Linked DNA regions of Homo sapiens: all the other regions are linked to region 3. The links come from fine-mapping of genetic effects on gene expression. A gene starts in region 3. Each other region holds a variant in brackets. All regions are shown on one strand. Distances are between the middles of the regions.

Region 1 (2,500 bases), 70 kb after region 3:
CATGTAGCCAACTGATTCTCAGAGAATGCTTTTGTTAATTTTCCCAACTTTCATGTCCGTAAGCAAACCACTGTTACAACTGACAGATGAATATAGTTCCAACGTGAATGTTGGTTGATATTTTCCTTTATGTTAATGAGGAAGACAAAAGTGAAACAACACATACGAATGTCAAAACCTCCCTCCTTGCTTAATGATATGAGTGACTTTTTTGCTGAATTGGATACTAGTTTCTGAATACTGGAAGAATATTTCCTCAGCTGTTTGTGTTCTTCACAATGGAACAGCCACAGCTCACTTATAAATGTAATCTACATTTTCAACATTTCTGAAACTTTGCCTTCCCTATCACAGGTACATAGTTTTATCCGATTAGCAAGTTAGAGCAGTTTCTTCCCACTGCCCCCTTAAACAGTCTGTCCGGGAGAAAGTTCTCTGGAGCTGGAGGAGAAGTTGGCAGGACGCCTACAGAGTAGCCATGGGTACCCCCAGAGAGGAAGGGAATTGGTGCCACACAGTCTTCGGAGTGTGGAGGTGGACACTGGGTAGTGTATCATTTGTGGATGTCACAAGCCTCTACTCAGACTTGTTCTAATGTTTTAAAGGGCATTTTGATTTTATGTTGCTTGCATTCTTCATCCTGTTTGTGAGTTATTTCATGAAAGGGTAATTGTATTTTGATTTGAGGGAAATAATGACTTTTTTCTTTCACACGGGTATAAATATCTAAGAAAAGCTCTTAGCTTTCTGTCAGCTTTTTTATGTGATTATTTACCTCAGTATCTTAAGTGATGTTTTTGTTAAGAAAGAAAAAGGCAGGGGAAAATTAGAGAAGTTATGAAAGTACTATTAGCTTTCTAAATTCATTGGGAAGAAACTCTCTTGATTTTCAGCTATATCACACCCCAGGGTTCTTTTCAACATTTCTGATTTTTTTTTTTTTTTTCTGCTAACCTTAGGGATTTCTCAGAAACTTTGCCAGCTGAATTATCTGGGGGAGGTAGGAGTAGGGGAGAGTGGAATTTGAGGATTTATGGAGTTGACAGCTTACAAAGAGGTTT[G/A]AACGGCCTCAGTAGAATATTAACATTTGGGCTCTGTTTTGTTACAAATAGGGACATGAAATCATATTGCTTCCTCTTATATCCCATAGTAAAAGAACTATGGGATGTAGTTCAAAATATATAATCAAAATAACGATTGGCCTGGCTGTTAAGAATCACTGTCTTTTCCCAGAGAATTTTTGTGATAGAATATAAGATCCTCCTCTTTATTCTAAAGCCACTGGTCTGCAGGTCATCAAAGAAGTGAGTGATGTTACAAGCAATTGCCAGTAATATTGTATCATTTGGACTTGGATTCTGGTTCTGTTCCTGAATTGTATGTTTAGTTTTTCTTCCTGGCGCTTGATCCTTTAGAACCTCCTGGATGATACAATCGTTTATGTCAGCTAGGCTACAATTATGATCATTAGCAGGGGTTGTTCTTGCATCTATACTTAACTGTTTTTTCACTAGTTCCGGATCTTACTGATTAGGTACTTTCTGAACTGGGAGGCAGAAAAATGTCATTGATTGGCAAGTTCGTATCTGTGTCATGTTGAAAATTGTCTTAGATTATTAACTAAGTTCAGTCTTTTTGTGTGTTCTGCCTGTCAATATATCTACTGTTAATGAGAACTTATTTTAGGATTGCAGTGAGTTTAATGTGTATAACATGCTTAGAACCGTGGCCGGGACATATTCACATGCTTAGCACATGTTAGCAGCTATGAATTATTTTAATGTCAACATTATCATCATCAGATTTCACTGGTACATTATAGGCTCTGTGTGTGTGTGTGTGTGTGTGCGCGCGCCTGCATGTCACTGAATGTACGTGTGAGTGTGCGTGTGTGCATATGAACATGTGAATGTATCCTCCTCCATTACTGCTGGCCTCTTCAGCGTCTTCTGGGCTCTATTCATATGTCATCTTGTCGAGGCCTTTCTAGAACACCTTATTGAAAAGTGTGGTGGCTCACGCCTGTAATCCCAGCACTTTGGGAGGCTGAGGCGGGCAGATCACGAGGTCAGGAGATCGAGACCATCCTGGCTAACACGGTGAAACCCCGTCTCTACTAAAAATACAAAAAATTAGCTGGGCGTGTGGTGGGCACCTGTAGTCCCAGTTACTCGGGAGGCTGAGGCAGGAGAATGGCGTGAACCCAGGAGGCGGATCTTGCAGTGAGCTGAGATCATGCCATTGCACTCCAGCCTGGGCGACAGAGTGAGACTCCATCTCAATAAATAAATAAATAAATAAATAAATAAATAAATAAATAAATAAATAAATAAATAAAAGAGAAGTGTGATGCCTCTTCTACATATACACATCCTGCCTTCAGATCCTGCCATGTGGATTCTGAGTTTCAGGAGGGCAGCGGGGATTTCTGAAATCATCTGACATGGGCCTTTTCTTCAGTCCATTCCAGATTGGGGGAGAATAGTAGGGACCCATATTC
Region 2 (2,762 bases), 40 kb after region 3:
CTAACACATGTGGATTAAGAAGGAAAAATATTGCTGATTTGTAATATATGCATATGGTTTATAAGGATGCAGTAAGTGGTAGGCAGTACAGTAAGATGCTTGTCAAAACGTTCTCCTCTTCATAAGAAAAGGATATAAAATGCAATTCTTTGGTTACCATTTAAAAATATAACCATACAAGACCATTTCTTGTCATTTACAATCTGAAATATTTTTTTTTCATGGGTACAGCATGTTAGAAAGTTCCTGGTATTCTGATTAGTGGTGCAAAGTGAGGTACAGAGGTGAACCCCTTTGATAATGATGCTGTTCACCATGCTCTTTATTTTCCTTTTATTTCCTTAAGAGCCACAGACAGGCCAGACTTTGGTCTTAAAATATTATTAGCAAGGTCCTTCCATGGGGTTCCCTCTTATCAGCCACTCAGCTTGGTTCATGTCAAAAAAGCCTGTGAAAGTCTCCCTCCACAGCAGCTGGAGCTGGCGAGTGTGCACACATAGAAGGCCTGAAGGGGCAGCAGGCTGTGAGAGGCACAGCGTGGACCTCACGGCATCACTGAGACATGACTCAGCGAGTCACTGAGTTTCTGGTCTTCCCAAGTCACTTTACCTTTCTGAACTTTATATTCATCTGTAAAATAAGTGTAATAACACCTACCACATTGGGGAAATGGAGAATCAAGTAATTTTTTTTTGTTAACACATTTATATAAAATTGGACAGTGTTTAACATATAAAATACATAACAGTGGGCCAGGTGTGATGGCTTATGCACTTTGGGAGGCTGAAGCTTGAGCCCAGGAGTTTGATACCAGCCTGGGCAACGTCATGAGACCTCATCTCTACTAAAAATAAAAAACTTGGCTGGGCGCAGTGGCTCACGCCTGTAATCCCAGCACTTTGGGAGGCGGAGACGGGCGGATCACGAGGTCAGGAGATCGAGACCATCCTGGCTAACACAGTGAAACCCCGTCTCTACTAAAGATACAAATATTAGCTGGGCGTGGTGGCGGGTGCCTGTAGTCCCAGCTACTCGGGAGGCTGAGGCAGGAGAATGGCGTGAACAGAGGAGGTGGAGCTTGCAGTGAGCCGAGATTGTGCCACTGTACTCCAGCCTGGGTGACGGAGCGAGACTCTGTCTCAAAAAAAAAAAAAAAAACAAAAACAAAAACTTAGCTGGGCATGGTGGTGCACGCTTGTAGTCCCAGCTATC[A/G]GAGTCTGTGGTGGGAGGATCAGTTGAGCCCAGGGGTCAAGGCTGCAGTGAGCTATGATCACACCACAGCACTCCAGCCTGAGTGACAGCGAGACCCTGTCTCAAAAAAAAATAAAACACATGACAGCGAATATTAGTTCTCGTCCCCTTTTTCTTTTCTTGCTCTTAAATAATTTACTTTTGAATTGAAATACAATATACATTAGTGAAGTCACGCTATAAGGGGAATCGGTGTCAAGCTGCATTCAGTGGCACACCCATAGTCCTAGCTACTTGGAAGGCCAAGGCAGGAAGATCGCTTGAGCCCAGGAGTTTGAGGCTGTAGTGCGCAATGATTGAGCCTGTGAATGCCCACTGCACTTCAGCCTGGGCAACATAGCAGGACCCTGTCTCTGAAAAAAAGAGACGAATCAATGTAAAGTAGTGTTACCATCACGTGCTGAGGATCTGAGGGAACAGACTTACTAGCTGGGCTGGATAGGTACTTGACTGAGGAGCTGTGTGATTATCCGCAGTGTGAAGATGACAGATGAGGAGATGATGTGGAAGGAGTTATTGCCTGCTTTATCTGATTATATGTTTAGAAGTGAGACCTCTTTGAAAATATTTTATACATGCATATTTTTGCTTGGACTGTTACAGTTCTGATGGCTGGTACCCAGTGTGTTTTATCCAAGAACATTCTCTCCCCAGCTTGCCATACATATTTTCAGATTCACACCAATACCATATTTTTTTGCTTCCTATTTTATTGTGCTGAGGAATGTCTGAAAATAGTACAGCGTACTATGCCAAAGTCATTGTTGGTTCTCACAGTGTGGTCTCTAGATCACTGGTCAATGGGGGTCTTCTGGGGGGGTCTGTTGATTGGTTCAAAATATTTGCATAAGAAAGAAATATAGGCTGGGCGCAGTGGCTCACACCTGTAATCCCAGCACTTTGGGAGGCCGAGGTGGGCGGATCACTTGAGGTCAGGAGTTCAAGACGAGCCTGGCCAACATGGTGAAACCCTGCCTCTACTGAAAATACAAAAATTAGCTGGGTGTGGTGGTGCCTGTAGTCCCAGCTACTCGGGAGGCTGAGATGGGAGAATCACTTGAATCCGGGAGGCAGAGGTTGCAGTCAGCCGAGATCGTGCCACTGCACTCCAGCCTGGGTGACAGAGTGAGACTCCGTCTCAAAAAAAAAAAAAAAAAAAAAAAAAAAAGGAATATAAACCATGTACCCTGACTTATTGCAGGAAACTTACCAAGCTCAACTTAAACTTGGTAAAGATACTGTGAGGTTGCCACTTTTAGAGTTTCTATTTTTTAAAATTTAAAATAGACTATTTTTTAGAACAGTTTTGATTTACAGAAAAAATTGAGAAGTTAGTTTGGAGAGTTCACTCACATCTGAACCATTTCTTCTGTTATTAACCTTTTACGTGACTATGGTACGTGTATCACAATTAATGAACAATATTGACATGTTATTATTAAGTGACGCCCGCACTGTATTGACATTCCTTAGTTTTTACTGGATGTCCTTTTTCTGTTTCTGGATCCCAT
Region 3 (2,500 bases):
AATCAACCACCTCTTTAATGGGGAAAAGTGTAAATTCCATAGTGTAGCCATATAAGGCTTTTCGAGATCTGCCCAGACTCCTTGAGCCACTCTATATATACTTCACTCATTTAAAACTCAGCGACAATCCTACAAGTAGGTGAAATTATTATTCCCTCTTTACAGATAAGTAAAGGGGAATATAAGTAAATAACTTGCCCAAGACCACACGGTTGGTAAGTGGCCCTGCTTGACTTTAAATTTTGACAGTCTGATATATCCATAAACCAGATAAATCCATAATTTTAACCACAATATTATTCTGTGCCCGGTACAGTGTAGGTGCTCAATAAATGCTTGCTAGATGAGTAGTGTGGAAGAGCTTAGCTCTCCTTTTTCACCTGATCCCAAAAGAGGAGTGAATCCTAACCACCCTGTTTCTCTTAAGAGTCAAGTCAAGTAAGAGCTGATGACTGTTACTGGCATTGCCCGGGCGTCTAGTATTGCAGTATCCCCGCCCCTGTGAGGGGTGCAAAACCTTTTCTGATTTCATTTCTTTGGTGGTGGGGATCGGACTGGGGAGGAATGAGGGGTCGCAGAACACAGGCTGCCCGCTGGGCCCGGGGGCTGCGGGGAGGGACGGCTCTCGTGCGCTGAGTAGTTGACTCGCCCACTGCAGACCTCAGAAGCCTCACGACCCGGACCCCGGGAGCCCCAGCCCCGCGCCCTCAGCCCCGCGTCCAGGACCTGATCCTGGATTGCCAGGGGCCCTCCTGGGAAGACGGGGCCACTCCGGGCCCACTCACCTCGTCCCGGCACTGCTTCTGGCACATCTGGCAATACCAGCGTAGCTTCTGCAGCCCCTTGGACTTGATCCTGTTGGCGATAGCCTTGGGAGTAAGAAAATCCGACTTCCCCATGGCGACCACGGCAGCGATCACTTTCTGGACCCCAGTACTCAGCCAGCCGGAAACGGAACCGGGCTGGCGGCGGTGGGCGGGACAAATCCCAGCTGAGAGGCGGAAGGAGGTGGGGCCTGGGAAGACTGGGTTGCAACGGTCGCGAGACTCCCCTCGCCGTAGCGCGAAGAAACGAGACTGAAGAAGAGAGCAAGGTGGGAGGGGCGCGCTGGGGAGCTTCGGCGCATGCGCGCTGAGGCCTGCCTGACCGACCTTCAGCAGGGCTGTGGCTACCATGTTCTCTCGCGCGGGTGTCGCTGGGCTGTCGGCCTGGACCTTGCAGCCGCAATGGTATGGCAGCTTGCGGGAAGATCGGCAGGACCGCAAGGGATGGAAGAGCTTGGGCACGGGGCAGGGAGGAGGAGATGGGCGCGGGGGCAGATGTGGGGTCGCAGGGCCTAGCTGGGCCCCTGGCCCGTCGGAGGCGCCGGGTAGCGGGGGCTGCAGGAAGCGGCTCTGAGGTCGGGCAAGGTGTGCGCAGGGCCGGGCTCCGGCGGAGCAAGGTCCCGCCCGGTTCCCTGAGGTCGGAGGGCCACCTGGGACCTCGGGACTGCGGCCTGAGTCCAAATTGACGTCTGGGCGGTCTTGAGTTCCCTCAGCTAATCAGCACTTCCTGAGCTTCCACTTCCACTGCAAGCCAGGCCCCCAGTCTCAGGGCCTGCAAGGTGACGGGAGCCTGAGCAATAGCCCAGGGGAAGGTTAAGTCGTGCTTTTTGTCCTTGACGCCCTTTGAAACCCTGTAGTGCTGGACAGAGTGACCCTTTAAGATTCGATCGAGTCAGAGAGCGCGGCCGTCGAGCACCTCCCGTGTTGCAGACGCTTTGCTGGGTGCTGCAACAGCAAAGGCGAACATCCTAGATGCCTCTGAGGGTGGTTTTGGTGCAGAAGGGACCGTACAGATCTGTCTGAGGGCGGGGAAGGGAAGGACACCTAGCACTACCTTGAAACCACTTGCTGAAACCGTAACCCTGCAAGGTCATGAAATTGCCCCCAGGTCCTGGGGGAGGAGTTCGGTGGGCTTTTAAGTGGCATTTGTTAACTGACATGCAACTAAAGGGTGCCACGAGCCTCGAGAATTTTAAACATTAGTTCCGGGTAGGGGGACCTGGGCTGGGGGAAGTGCATATTAGAAGGCCCGGGAATGGGCAGGTAAAAGTTGGTTTGTGGGTGGTGCTGTTCAGTTTTGAAGCTTGACGGAATCTGGAAGAATTCCAGACACGCTGCTAAGGGGATTCTAGGCTGTGTCGTAGCAATTCCCTGCTCTTAACAGTGTGGAGGATTTCTAAGGCGCTACAGTGCTAAACTAGATTTTCGTATCCTAATTTATATGAAGGGACCATAAAGCATTAGTTGAAATAAATAGGTTTTTCATTAAGCAAATAACTGATAGTAATATACGAGATTTTCAGAATGATATCTGATGTGAATTAGCCACATAAAATTTTTGGTGGCTTGGCCTTGGAAGTCAGATTTTTTTTTCTCTAATATGGAAAAAGAACATTCATGGGAATTAAAAGGTCACTGTAGTTGAATTCTCAGTTGTATAGATTGTCCCACTTGTT
Region 4 (2,762 bases), 24 kb after region 3:
GTTCCTGATTCCTGGCCTCCACTGTTCACTTCTAGTTACTCTCTTCAAAGAGTGGCTTCACTGAGACATCATCCACATGCCATGAAATTCACCCTTCTAAATTCTACCACTCAGTGGTTTTTCATATATTCAGAGTTGTGCTCTAATCCACTCTCTATATCATTGCAAGATGAATTGTGCTAAAAGGCATTACTGAAATATGACTAACTGCTAGGTACTATTTACTAGTGAATGAGACGAACACAGATCCTGCCTCTACCCCCGCAAAGTATACAGCAAAGAATGGAATGATTTTAGTTTCGGACATCCCTCAAACATTAATTACATTTGAGTGATATATTGGACATCCAAGCAGACATTAGTCATTAGATGCAGTTAGCTACGCTAGTATAGCACTCAGGAACAATCCAAGATAAAGTGTTATATTAAGGAGTCATCTTTACACAGCTAATGATGAAATCACTGAGGTGAATCCTATGAAAAGAGAACACTGTAAAAGCAGACAAAAGCTGCCAGGCGTAGTGGCTCATGCCTGTAATCCCAGCAGTTTGGGAGGCCGAGGTGGGCAAATTGCTTGAGCCCAGCGGTTTGAGACTAGCCTCGGCCACATAGCAAAACCCATCTCTACAAAAAAGACAAAAATGAGCCAGGCATGGTGACATGTGCCTGTGGTCCCAGCTACTCAGGAGCCTGAGGTAGAAAGATTGCTTGAACCTGGGAGGTCGAGGCTGCAGTGAGCTGTGACCAGGCATGATGGTGCATGCCTGTAATCCCAGCTTTTTGGGAGGCTGAGGCAGGAGAATCACTTGAACCTGCGAGGCAGAGGTTGCAGTGAGCTGAGATCGTACCACTTCACTCCAGCTTGGGTGACAGAGCAAGACTCTGTCTCAACAAAACAAGCAAACAAACAAAAAAAGTAATAAAAGGCAAAGACATTGCAGGATAAGTCAAATCTTTGATATTGAAGCCAGGTTTCTCACTTTGGGAGAGACAGGATATGCAAATAGGACATGGGAGGAGAAAAGGGATATGTAATTTTAGACTTGAATTAGAGGCATCTGTGTGTACTTTGCACTTCAAAAGTACACATATTGCTGGGTGCAGTGGGTCACGCCTGTAATCCCAGCACTTTAGGAGGCCGAGGTGGGCGGATCACCTGAGGTCAGGAGTTAGAGACCAGCCTGGCCAACATGGTGAAACCCCATCTGTACTAAAAATACAAAAAATTAGCCGGGCAAGGTCGTGCACCTGTAATCCCAGCTACTCGGGAGACTGAGGCAGGAGAATCGCTTGAACACGGGAGGCAGAGGTTGCGGTGAGCCGAGACCAGCCATTGCACTCCAGCCTGGGTGACAGAGCAAGACTCCGTCTCAAAAAAAAAAAAGATACATATTTTTTAGTTCTTTCCACTACAAGGGCCCTGAAGCAATGATTTCCCTGTAGTAATGAAGGTCAGCTAGCACACGTCTGGGTTCTAAATAATATTCCTTTCTAAGAAGAACCAGGGCTCCTCAGAGAGATGTCTACTTCCAAGCTTAGAGCAAGAGAAGCACAAGGTGAGCCTGGAAAATCTAGTGGCACCAAATAGCAAGTCCTCCATGAATGATGGTGACACAGTACAAGAATACAGTGGCC[G/A]GCTGGAAAGGGCTCCCACTGGCCAAATACGGGACAATTTAAGCAGCAAGAGAATCACGAAGGTAATGGATCATGACACACCAGCTAAAGAAAAGAATCCGTGCTGGGTGCAGTGGCTCATGCCTTGTAATCCCAAAACTTTGAGAGGCCAAGGCAGGTGGGAGTTACAGACCAGCCCGGCCAACATGGTGAAACCCCATCTCTACTAAAAAGACAAAAATTAGCCAGGTGTGGTGGTGCACGCCTATAATCCCAGCTACTTGGGAGGCTGAGACAGGAGAATCGCTTGAACCCGAGAGGCGGAGGTTGCAGTGAGCCAAGATCTCGCCATTGCACTCCAGCCTGGGCAACAAGAGCAAAACTCCGTCTCAAAAAATAAATAAATAAATAAATAAAATGTAAAGCCATAAAAGGCATTTGGGGACAATGGGAAAATCTGAACACGCACTTTATTTTGTGGGATATTATTGTGTCAATCTTAGTTTGCTGAGTGTGATCATGGTATTATGGGGAGGTGGGAGCTGTGATGCACCATCCAGATCCCCCTTCAGAAGGACCTTCCACTGGGAATGGTGGAAGCACACAGCCCCCAGCTGCCAACCCTCGTTGGAATTGCCTCAGCTGGAGATCACCTTGCCCAAGGTCATGGCCCCCTCCGGAAGCACCTACATCCAGTGTCTGATCAGTATGAGAGTATAAAGACCCCCTGCCTGGCTCAGGACACTGCAAAGGGCCATTCCAGCCTTACAGCTCTCTGTGGGCTTGACTGAGGCCTTTGTGAGCTGGAGCCCAATGTCTCCCTATCCCAGTCCTGCTCTCTCCCCTTTCCCGTCCCCCCCTTTCCCATCCCCCTTCCTCTCCCTTCCACCTTTCCTCCTCAACCTCTCCCCATCCCTTCCCCTCCCCAAGCCCCTCCCTTCTCAACACTGCCCTTCCCTAGTCCTGCTTCCTGCCTGCCCTCCTCTTCTCTCTGCCAGGCGGTGACCCCAAGAGCCCTCCTCTGAGGTTAATCTTCATCTCAGAGACAGCCTCCTGGGGAGTCCAGCTTGGGACATTTGGTGCCGGAGAGGTCTGAAAGAGCAGATGCAAGATGGGATTTTGGAGCTGGATTCCCCCACTGGCTGGCG

Alleles and levels. Positions count from the first base shown, and alleles are read on the strand shown. Sizes are in standard deviations (SD) of each study's normalised expression. Not every link is listed here.
With allele A in place of G in region 1, the expression in subcutaneous fat of the gene that starts at base 1,143 in region 3 is lower (small effect, 0.18 SD a copy in GTEx).
For the expression in atrial appendage of the gene that starts at base 1,143 in region 3, allele A in region 2 goes with a higher level than allele G (small effect, 0.16 SD a copy in GTEx).

Evidence for each region. PIP is the estimated chance that this variant, and not a neighbour inherited with it, causes the effect.
Region 1: its variant is the best candidate, but not a certain one, in a credible set for the expression of ATP5F1C in subcutaneous fat (GTEx, PIP 0.66).
Region 2: its variant is the best candidate, but not a certain one, in a credible set for the expression of ATP5F1C in atrial appendage (GTEx, PIP 0.64).
Region 4: its variant is the best candidate, but not a certain one, in a credible set for the expression of ATP5F1C in whole blood (INTERVAL, PIP 0.61).

The regions. Positions count from the first base shown.
Region 1 is chr10:7,856,981-7,859,480 of GRCh38, forward strand. The region is part of intron 2 of TAF3 (TATA-box binding protein associated factor 3); the gene reads left to right. Among named protein-coding and RNA genes, the nearest start is that of TAF3, 40 kb to the left of the region's middle. The variant G/A (reference allele first, on the strand shown) is at 1,062.
Region 2 is chr10:7,826,639-7,829,400 of GRCh38, forward strand. The region is part of intron 2 of TAF3 (TATA-box binding protein associated factor 3); the gene reads left to right. Among named protein-coding and RNA genes, the nearest start is that of TAF3, 9.5 kb to the left of the region's middle. The variant A/G (reference allele first, on the strand shown) is at 1,213.
Region 3 is chr10:7,787,035-7,789,534 of GRCh38, forward strand. It overlaps ATP5F1C (ATP synthase F1 subunit gamma), which reads left to right and starts at 1,143. Exons shown (of 10, transcript NM_001001973.3): 1 at 1,143-1,229. The coding sequence starts at 1,174. KIN (Kin17 DNA and RNA binding protein) reads right to left here and starts at 959. Exons shown (of 13, transcript NM_012311.4): 1 at 786-959. The coding sequence starts at 899. RefSeq lists enhancers at 912-1,231, 1,684-2,227.
Region 4 is chr10:7,810,852-7,813,613 of GRCh38, forward strand. All of the region lies in intron 1 of LOC105376392 (a long non-coding RNA gene), which reads right to left. Among named protein-coding and RNA genes, the nearest start is that of TAF3, 6.3 kb to the right of the region's middle. The variant G/A (reference allele first, on the strand shown) is at 1,636.